Regions from separate parts of the Homo sapiens genome. Here all the other regions are linked to region 2. Evidence: fine-mapped expression QTL. A gene starts in region 2. Each other region holds a variant in brackets. All regions are shown on one strand. Distances are between the middles of the regions.

Evidence for each region.
Region 1: its variant is fine-mapped to the expression of TEX9 in unexposed skin (GTEx, PIP 0.96).
Region 3: its variant is fine-mapped to the expression of TEX9 in testis (GTEx, PIP 0.99).
Region 4: its variant is fine-mapped to the expression of TEX9 in minor salivary gland (GTEx, PIP 0.91).

Annotation. Positions count from the first base shown.
Region 1 is chr15:56,265,774-56,268,468 of GRCh38, forward strand. It overlaps a transcript of TEX9 not described here. Among named protein-coding and RNA genes, the nearest start is that of RFX7, 23 kb to the left of the region's middle. The variant G/T (reference allele first, on the strand shown) is at 1,134.
Region 2 is chr15:56,364,237-56,366,931 of GRCh38, forward strand. TEX9 (testis expressed 9) reads left to right here and starts at 1,190. Exons shown (of 12, transcript NM_001395496.1): 1 at 1,190-1,241; 2 at 1,343-1,434. The coding sequence starts at 1,215. RefSeq lists enhancers at 654-833, 844-893, 1,434-1,483.
Region 3 is chr15:56,252,616-56,255,310 of GRCh38, forward strand. It overlaps a transcript of TEX9 not described here. Among named protein-coding and RNA genes, the nearest start is that of RFX7, 10 kb to the left of the region's middle. The variant C/T (reference allele first, on the strand shown) is at 1,399.
Region 4 is chr15:56,422,634-56,425,328 of GRCh38, forward strand. The region is part of intron 10 of TEX9 (testis expressed 9); the gene reads left to right. Among named protein-coding and RNA genes, the nearest start is that of MNS1, 41 kb to the right of the region's middle. The variant G/A (reference allele first, on the strand shown) is at 1,299.

The DNA of each region.
Region 1 (2,695 bases), 98 kb before region 2:
TGAAGGTTTCATATTTTTGGAAAAGAATATTCTCTTGTGTGGGTGGCCTATTATATGAATATCAGTTGGGTCAAGGTGGTTGATGGTATTGTTCAGGCTTTTTAATCCTTTACTGATTTTCATTCCTACTGCTTTATTGATTACAGTGAGAAAAGTGTTGATTCAAAAGACCTTTTGATATGATACCACAGTTCTTGGGTGCTCTGAGCCACCAACCATAATTTTGGACTTATCTAATACCTTTTATTCTGTCAGATTTTACTTCCTATATTCTGCAAATCTTTTGTTAGATGTGTGATTATTATGCATTTTTTTGTATATTCTTGGTGAATTGGTTGCTTGTCATTATGTAATTTCTCTCTTTTTTTTTTGAGACAGAGTCTCACTCTGTCTCCCAGGCTGGAGTGCAGTGGTGCAGTCTTGGCTTACTGCAACCTCCACTGCCTGGGTTTAAGCAATTCTCCTGCCTCAGCCTCCCAAGTAGCTGGGACTACAGGTGTGCACCACCATGCCTGGCTAATTTTGTATTTTTAGTAGAGATGGGGTTTCTTTTCTTTTTTTTTTTTTAGTACTTTAAGTTCTAGGGTACATGTGCACTATGTGCAGGTTTCTTACATATGTATACATGTGCCGTGTTGGTTTGCTACACTCACTAACTCGTTGTTTACTTTAGGTATTTTTCCTAATGCTATCCGTCCCCCATCCCCCCCACCCAATGACAGGCCCCGGTGTGTGATATTCCCTGCCCTGTGTCCAAGTGTTCTCATTGTTCAATTCCCACCTATGAGTGAGAACACGCAGTGTTTGGTTTTCTGTCCTTGTGATACTTTGCTCAGAATGATGGTTTCCAGCTTCATCCATGTCGCTACAAAGGACATGAAGTCATCCTTTTTTATGGTTGCATAGTATTCCATGGTGTATGTGTGCCATATTTTCTTAATCCTGCCTATCATTGATGGACATTTGGGTTGGTTCCAAGTCTTTGCTATTGTGAATAGTGCTGCAATAAACATACGTGTGCATATGTCTTTATAGCAGCATGATTTATAATCCTTTGGGTATATACCCAGTAATGGATGGCTGGGTCAGATGGTATTTCTAGTTCTAGATCCTTGAGGAATTGCCACACAGTC[G/T]TCCATAATGGTTGAACTAGTTTACAGTCCCACCAACAGTGTAAAAGTGTCCCTATTTCTCCACATCCTCTCCAGCACCTGTTGTTTCCTGACTTTTTAATGATTGCCATTCTAACTGGTGTGAGATGGTATCTCATTGTGGTTTTGATTTGCATTTCTCTGATGGCCAGTGATGATGAGGATTTTTTCATGTGTCTGTTCACTGTATAAATGTCTTCTTTTGAAAAGTGTCTGTTCATGTCCTTTGCCCAGTTTTTGATGGGGTTGTTTGATTTTCTTCCTGTAAATTTGTTTAAGTTCTTTGTGGATTCTGGATATTAGCCCTTTGTCAGATGAATAGATTGCAAAAATTTTCTCCCATTCTGTAGGTTGCCTGTTCACTCTGATGGTAGTTTCTTTTGCTGTGCAGAAGCTCTTTAGTTTAATTAGATCCCATTTGTCTATTTTGGATTTTCTTGCCATTGCTTTTGGTGTTTTAGTCATGAAGTCCTTGCCCATGCCTATGTCCTGAATGGTATTGCCTAGGTTTTCTTCTAGGGATTGTATAGTTTTAAGTCTAACATTTAAGTCTTTAATCCATCTTGAATTAATTTTCGTATAACGTGTAAGGAAGGGATCCAGTTTCAGCTTTCTGCATATGGCTAGCCAGTTTTCCTAATACCATTTATTAAATAGGGAATCCTTTCCCCATTTCTTGTTTTTGTCAGGTTTGTCAAAGTTCAGATGGTTGTAGATGTGTGGTGTTATTTCTGAGGGCTCTGTTCTGTTTCATTGATCTCTATCTCTGTTTTGGTACCAGTACCATGCTGTTTTGTTTACTGTAGGGTTGTAGTATAGTTTGAAGTCAGGTAGCGTGATGCCTCCAGCTTTGTTCTTTTTGCTTAGGATTGTCTTGGCAATGTGGGCTCTTTTTTGGTTCCATATGAACTTTAAAGTAGTTTTTTCCAATTCTATGAAGAAAGTCATTGGTAGCTTGATGGGGATGGCATTGAATCTATAAATTACCTTAAACAGTATGGCCATTTTCACGATATTGATTCTTCCTGTCTGTGAGCATGAAATGTTCTTCCATTTGTTTCCTCTTTTATTTCATTGAGCAGTGGTTTGTAGTTCTCCTTGAAGAGGTCCTTCACATCCCTTGTAAGTTGGATTCGTAGGTATTTTATTCTCTTTGTAGCAATTGTGAATGGGAGTTCACTCATGATTTGGCTCTCTGTTTGTCTGTTATTGGTGTATAGGAATGCTTGTGATTTTTGCACAATGATTTTGTATCCTGAGACTTTGCTGAAATTGCTTATCAGCTTAAGGAGATTTTGGGCTGAGATGATGGGATTTTCTAAATATACAATCATGTCATCTGCAAACAGGGACAATTTGACTTCCTCTTTTCCTAATTGAATACCCTTTATTTCTTTCTCTTGCCTGGTTGCCCTGGCCAAAACTTCCAACACTATGTTGAGTAAGAGTGGTAAGAGAGGGAATCCCTATCTTGTGCCAGTTTTCAAAGGGAATGCTTCCAGTTTTTGCCCATTCAGTATGATATTGGCTGTGGGTTTGTCGTA
Region 2 (2,695 bases):
TCTGCCTCCCAGGTTCAAGCGATTCTCCTGCTTCAGCCTCCCCAGTAGCTGGGATTACAGGCATGAGCCACCACACCCGGCTAATTTTTTTTTTTTAGGAGTGGCGGGGTTTCTCCATATTGGTCAGGCTGGTCTTGAACTCCCAACCTCAGGTGATCCACCCGCCTTGGCCTCCCAAAGTGCTTGGATTACAGGCATGAGCCTCTGTGCCCAGCCTCTTTTTTCTTTTCTTTTTTTTTTTTTTTGCTACTGCTTTTGGTGTCATATCTAAGAATCCATCAAGGATTCTCAGAATTGTAATTCAAGGTCATAAAGATTTACACCAACAGTTTCTTTGAAGAGCTTTAGAGTTTTAGCTCCTAAGTTTAGGTCTTTGATACATTTTAATTTTTGTATATGGTGTGAAGTTAAGGGTCTAATTGCATTTGGATATCCAGTTGTCTCCCCATCTGTTGAAGACAATTATTTTCCCATTGAATGGTCTTGCACCCTTTCTAAAGATCAGATGACCATACATCATATCACGGTTTATTTTTGGATGTCAATTTTATTCCAAAACAATTGAAATTGTTAACCGCTTACGTGTTTCAGGCATGATCCTAAGCACGAATTCATTTGCTTCTCATAATAACTGTGAAGTGGGCACTATTCTCACTTCCATTTGACAAATGAAGTGGCCGATATACAGAGTGATTTGCCCAAGGCCATATAACTGGTAAGTGGCAGTGCCAGGATAATAATTTAGGTTGACTAACTTGAGAGCCTGAGTCTTAGCCATGCATGCTGTAAACAAAAATTAGAAATCAAAACTTCTGAATTCCACTGAAGAGCTCACTTTAAGCAAACGGGGTGAAGGTCGGATTAGCCACTAACGGTTTGAAAAGCACAACAGGGAGGGATTGCCTCACCAGCTTGCTTTCTATAGAGTAGCGGCAAAGGACCTGCCTGTTTTGGCTGAAACTCTTTCAACCCCCACAAGTTGAGAATTTGCACTAACTAAGTCGAATTTGCAGTTAGGAAGCCTTCCTGGGTTCCTGGGACAGCGCCGAGTGCTGCGAGCAAAGGCCGAGCCCGCTGCCAGAGGCTCGCGCCGCTCGCAGCACAGAACCTGAGAGTGGGAAGGCGTAGGCGCCCGGGCGGGAGGCAACCGGGATGTGGAAACTCTCGCGGGAAGATGCGTCGTTGCCTCGGTAACCGCGTCGCAGTCGCCGAAGATGGCGGGGCGAAGTCTGTGTCTCACGGTCAGTTCAACTCCAGGCTCCTGGGGAGCGTCTGGGTTCCGGCGACTAGGACGCCTAACTTCCTTTAACTTCGGGTCTGAAAGTCTGTGGCTCTTTTACAGAGAAGCAGCGTTCCAGGGACTCCGTTCCCGCCACCCGTTCAGCAACCCTCTACACCTGGACCCGACCTCCTCGCCTTGGAGGAAGAATATAAGTAAGAAATTCGGCGGTTGAACTTTTCCTTCTTTCTTTCATCTGAATGAGGCTGCTTACAAGTACTTTTTTCTGGAGACTGGCTGGATCTTCGGGACCACTCACTCTGCAGCATTCCCTTCTCGTCATCTCGTTCACCTGCCGTTTATCCTTTCTTTGTCTTTGATCTGAGTAGTTCGCCTGCGTATTAGAAGATATTTGAAGTGGGCGAAAATTTAGCCCAAGTAAGCATGTTGTTTAATTTAAAACGTAGCCCAAGTAAACAGCAAGATACTGTTGGAAGTTATTTGGGTAGCAGGAATTGCCACGAATAGTTAGTTCACTTGATAGTTTAGGTTATTTCGCTTAATATCAAGTTCATAGAGTTTACCTTGTGTAAATTTCCTTTAGGTTGGTTTCTAAATTGAAAGGATGCTTCCCACTGCAATCAGAATTACCATTCTCGTTCAAATATTCCTTTTCTTATCTGTTCTCAGTGTAATTACAACTATCCTGACAACGGTGCTTTCATTCTTGGCCCATTCTACTCCTCATCCCCAAGTTTTCACACAGCAGCCAGTGTAATCTTTTAATTTGATCTACCATGCCTTTGCTTAAAATTCTACAGTAGTTTCCTGTTGCATTTCAAAAGCTCTGATCGATGTGGCTCCTCCTGCCTCCTCTATTTGATCTTATTCCCTCTTCCCCTTTTCCCCCTAAAACTCTCCAGCTTCACTGGCCTTTTAGTTCCAAAAACTCTTCCAGGTTTTCTTTCTATCTCAGGAAAGAGACAGTCACACACGCCTTCAACCTGTAATGTGAGTGGCCTTCCTTGACCATGCTAAGTAGGCTCCCTTGTTGGTCTTTTTCATTGTCTCAGTGATTTTTCTTTCTAATTAGCATAATTTGTTACAATAAATTCATTTGTGAATTTCCTTTTTGTCTGTCTCCACTGGACTGTAAGTTCCAAGGGCAGAGGCGATGTCTGTTTTATTTGCCATCATACATACCCTTATAAAAAAGTGCCTTTTAACAACTCCCTTCCGTTTTAATATAAAATAACTAGATTAAAATTTGGAAATAGTTGGCAGTTTGTATCAGAGGGTTAAACTAGAGTTATCGTATGATCTACATATGATCTATAAGCATATTTGAAATTAAAACTGAAAGGTACTGTGTTTAGGTGAACTATACACAGACCAATTTACCACAGCAAGTAGGAAGATAATCATATCTTCTTCTCTCTGATGAAATGGGCCGATTATCCCAGTTCAAAAGTGTAC
Region 3 (2,695 bases), 110 kb before region 2:
GGCCAGCTTTGTTCCTTTTAAGGAAAAGAGTCTGCTGCGTGCTTCCTGTAACCTCTAGTTTCTTATCTGAATTCAGATCCACACTCTTGGGCAGATGAGGCTTGAGGCTGACCCTCATGGAGATCCCCCGGGCTTCCAAATTTAGAGTCTAGGATCCAAATCTCAGCTCTACCACTTGCCATTTTTGTGATCTCAGGCAAGTTCTTTGCTTCTCTGAGCCTCAGTTTTCCAATTGGTAAAAGTGGGGATAATAACTCCTTCACTCAGTTGTACTGATAATTTAATGAAAAATATTTCTGAAAATACTCCACACAATGCTTTACACATAGTAAAAGCCAAATAAATTATGAATTTCCCTTCCTTTTTTTCTGGAAGGTAGAGAGGAGAAGGGAAGGAATAGATTGATGGCAGGGGATAAGGGCCCTAAAAATGACAGGAGTCCTGAAAACCAAAAGTGGTGGCAGCCTAGTTTTTACATGCCACTACTTTATAGTCTGATAAAGCACAGGTCATGATCACTAAAAGCCACACGGCACCTAAGATAGCTGCTGCAAGAAATTCCTTGATCAGAGCACAGAAGGACATTCAAACTCTGCGTGTTTGAAATGCACAAAGCAGATAGGGAAAGAGGCACCATTGGATGGCAAGAAGAAAAAATTTTGCCTACACCAAGCAAAAAAACCCCAAAAATCATAAAACAAGGAGAGGTTCAACACATGCTATGTCAGAGAGTCCTGGGAGTGTACAGAGGTGTCTGACTTTAACCCCCTCCAAATATCAACCCCAGAACTGAAAAAGGAGAAAGAACGGAAGGTCTTCATAATCAGTTGGAAAATCTTACACAATATTTATAGGAACTTTAAACACGTATCCCTTCTGAGGTCCCTAAAGAAAGCCAAATGACACTAGCTATTCAGGGACTCAAAACCCCAAATAATATTAGAGATGAGGGTCTGTGCTTTCTAGCTACTCTCAGAAGGGTTCTCTTAGTGAGTATTAAAGCTGTTAAAGTTAGCTCTTGATGTACTCTGAACAGGCTACTCAGCAGTCAGGAATTGAGGTATGGCAGGGAGGGAGTAGAATTCCATAACAGGATGAGCTTGTTAGCCAAATCTGACTGAAAATGTCACTTATCGCTGCCCAATGTATAAGGTGGAAAAAGTGGCTAAAAATTACAGCTCTTCACAATCAGTGTCTCCCACTCCCATGAAAGAACATTAAAAAAAAATGGAATAGACTACCCAATGTGTTGTTAAAGGCAAGTGACTTGAGACTTGCCCCTCAGAGAATTGTTGGAATAGGGCTTCACTTTTCTCTCTGTGTCAAAGAAACTTTGAGTATCTTTTTAAATGTTTTGAAATAAAAATGGCAAGAACATAGGTTATCACCCACAAATTA[C/T]ATTTAATGGTGTTTTGAAAGAGTTAATTCAAAAATCCTGTGTATGAAGAGTAAATCAAGATGCCAGCCTGCAGGAAAGTTACCTCTACCAAATCTTATGAAATGACAGAAAAGATTAAAGGGGGTGAGGTTAATTGGTAACAGGACAGGGGACAAGAAAAATGCCGTAAGTGTATGAGAAATTTTCAGGAGATGGGATCAGACTTTAGAAAAACATACTAGAGCAACTGTGCCGTACATTTGGCTCTAGATTGCTGAGGAGGTAGGATAAATTTCAGGGATGCTACAAGCTCAGAGAGAACAGGTTCTATGAATAGGACATCCTAGGGTAATGGCCAGAGTGATTAACTGAAACACTGCATTTGGAGCAGCTGGACTGCTACTCACATTCCCTTCTTTTGCTTGTAATTGTCCACAGATTAAGTAGTGAGCCTGTGGATTCTGAGAGCCAACAGACAGAAGAGTAGCAGTGGACCCCAGGAGGCACAGGGAGGCTCCTCACTCTGAAAAGAAACACTCTCCCCAGCAATATGCCCTTCCCTTCACCTATAATCACAAGTTGACCCACATCAAGCAGAAGGAGAGAGCTAACAGGGATTCTTATTTATAAAGTAAAAGAATAATCCAATACAAGAATAATACAAGTTTGCAGAGACACCAAACTCAGAAAAAATAATACCTAACGAAAGAGAGTTTATAAATTTAAAAAAGATGAATACAAATTCTTTTTATAAATTTTATAATTTTAAGAAAATATAATTATTGTATATAAAATATATACTTATAAATATCACAAATATAACAATTATCCTCAAAGAGGTTCAAGATATTACATCCATGAAAATGAAACAATGATCCCAGAAATTTAAAAACATGATTTTTGAAATAAACTCAGGACATATGTATCACCAATAGAATCTCTTTGAAAGGATGACTATAGGATAAATTTTAACAAAATAAATGATGAATCCAAGAAAGATGAAGGTGAAGCATTCAAGAATCAGTGGAGAGAAAAGAGATGATTTGTCTAAATATGACATATATTTAAAATTAATAGCATAAAATTAAAATCTAGATTAGACGTTGGCAAATGTTTTCTGTAAAAGACCAGATAGTAAATATTTTCAGTTTTGTGTTCCATATAGACTCTGTTGCAACCACTCAGCTCTGCTGTTGTAGTGTGAAAACAGTCATAGATAATATGTAAATGAATGTGCGATAAGACTTTACAAAAGCAGGGGGCAGGTGAACCCCTGTTCTAGATGATTGCAACATAAAGATGGCAGGGACAAAGCAT
Region 4 (2,695 bases), 58 kb after region 2:
TGTTAATTTAAAAATTTTTAATTGTGGTAAGCTACACATAAGATTTACCTTCTTAAACATTTTAAGCATATAGTTCAGTAGTGTAACATAGATTCACACTGTTATACAACCTATCCATGAACTCTTTTCATCTTGCAAAAACTGAAACTCTCTACCAATTAAGCCACTCCCCATTTCCACCTCCCTCTAGACCCTGGCAACCACCATTGTACTTTCTGTCTCTATAAATTTGACTGCTCTAGGAAGTAAACGTCAGTAGAATTATACCATATTTGTTTTTCTTTAACTGGCTTATTTCACTTAACATAATGTTCTCAAGGTTGATCAAAGTTGTAGCATGTGTCAGAATTTCATTCCTTTTTAAGGCTTAATAATCATTGTATTTACATACCACATTTTGTTTATTCATCCATCAGTGGACAGTTGAGCTGCTTCCCAACCTTTTGGCTAGTATGAGTTGCACTGCTTTGAACAAGGGTATACAGATATCAATGTCTCCTAGAGAAAAGTGAAATGCTAGTTCCTTGATGTGTAAAGTCAGGTTGATTTGAAATCTTCTTTCCTAATGTAAGCATTTACAACTACAAATTTCCCTCTTAGCAGTGCTTATACTCTGTCCTATAAGTTTTGGTGTATTGTAGCTTTGTTGTCATTTGCCTCATGATATTTTCCAATTTGCTTTGTGATTTCTTCTTTGACCCCTTGGTAGTTTGAGTGTTTTGTTCAATCCCCACATATTTGTGGATTTTCCAGTTTTCCGTCCGCTGTTGATTTCTAGTTTGAATCAACTGTGATTGGAAAATATACTTTGTATGACTTATAAAATGTGGGGAATGTTCCATGTGCACTTGAGAAAACTGTATTCTCTTATTTTTTTCGTTAACATCTTATTGAGATACAATTCATATACCATGCAACCCACTTAAAATATACAAATAAGTTTGTTTTTAGTAGTCACAAAGTTGTGCAACCATCACCACAATCAATTTTGCAATTTTATCACCCCAAAAAGAACGTCTGTACCCATTCACAGCCACTCTATATTCCCCCAACACCCTGCACCACATTCTAGCCCTAGGCAACCACTAATCTACTTCCTGTCTCTCCATATTTGTCTGTTCTGGTATATGATTATATTTTTTCTTTATTATTTCAATCGTTTTGGGGGAACAGGTGGTGTTGGTTACACAGATAAGTGCTTTAGTGGTGATTTCTGAGATTTTGGTGCACCCATCACCCGAGCAGTCTATACTGAACCCAATGTGTAGTCTTTTATCCCTCTCACCCTTCCCCCACAA[G/A]TCCCTAGAGTCCATTATATCCTTCTTATGCCTTTGTGTTAGAGGACTACTCTTTATGTCTCTTAAATCTAATTGGTCTATAATGTTGTTCAAGTCCCTTATTGCTTTATTGGTCTTCCATCCGGTGATTCTATTGATTATTGGAAGTGGGGTATTGAAGTCTACTTTTACTATAGAGTAGTCTTTTCTCCAAGTCTGTCAATGCTTGCTTCATATATTTAGGCACTTTAATGTTTGGTACATATATAATTGTATCTATCTTCTTGCTGAACTGGCCCTTTTGTTTGGCCCATATGTTCTTATATAATGTCCTTCTTGGTATGTTTTAACAGTTTTGACTTAAAGTCTATTTTGTCAGATATTACTGTAGTCACTCCTGTGTTCTTTTGGTTACAAAATTTCAGATTATCTTTTTCCATCTTTTTACCTTAAACCTATGCATATCTCTGGATCTAAAGTTAGTTGCATGTAGACAGCATATAGTTGGATTTTGGTTTTTAAAAATCCATTCTTCCATTCAATTTATTTTGGTTAGGGAGTTTTGTCCATTTACATTTAAAGTTTTTGGGAGGTCTGTTGCTGTTTGTTCACAATTTTATGTATGTCTTGAGGACTTTTACCCTCTCATTTCCTTCCTTATTGCCTTATTGTTTAGTTGATTTTGTGTAATGATGCAACTTCAATCGTATATAAAGACTCTACTCCTTTTCAGCCCCTGCCCTACCTTGTGTTACTGGTGTCACAAATTACATCTTTAGGTTATGTACCCATTAACAAAGATTTATAGTATTTTTTATGCTTTTGTCTTTTAAATTCGAAAAGAATGAAAAGTGAAAGAATGAAAAGTGAGTTGTCAACCAAAATTAAAATAATACAGGCCTTTATATTTGTCCAAATATTTACATTTACTGGGGAATTTCATATTTGCATATAGCTTTGAATTATTGTCTAGTATCCTTTTGTTTCAACTTGAAGGATTTTCTTTAGGATTTTGTAGGGAAAATACAGTGGTAATGAAGTTCCTCAGCTCTTATCTAGGAATGTCTTAATTTCTTTTTCATTTTTGAAGGACACTTTGCTGGATGTAGTATTCTTCTAGGTTTTTTTCTTTCAGCCCTTTAAATATATCATCCTACTGACTTCTGGCCTGTAAAGTTTCTGCTGAAAAATCTGCTGATAATCTTACAGATGCTCCCTTGCATGTGATGAGCCATTTTGTCTTGTTGCTGTCAAGATTTTCTCTTTGTCTGACACTCGACTGATTAAAATGTGTCTTGCTGTGGGTCTCTGGGTTTATCCTACTTGGAGTTCATGGAGCTTTTTGTATTTGTGTATCCATTTCTTTCCTTAAATTTGGCAATTTTTCAGCTATTCTTCAAATAAGTTACTTGTCTCCT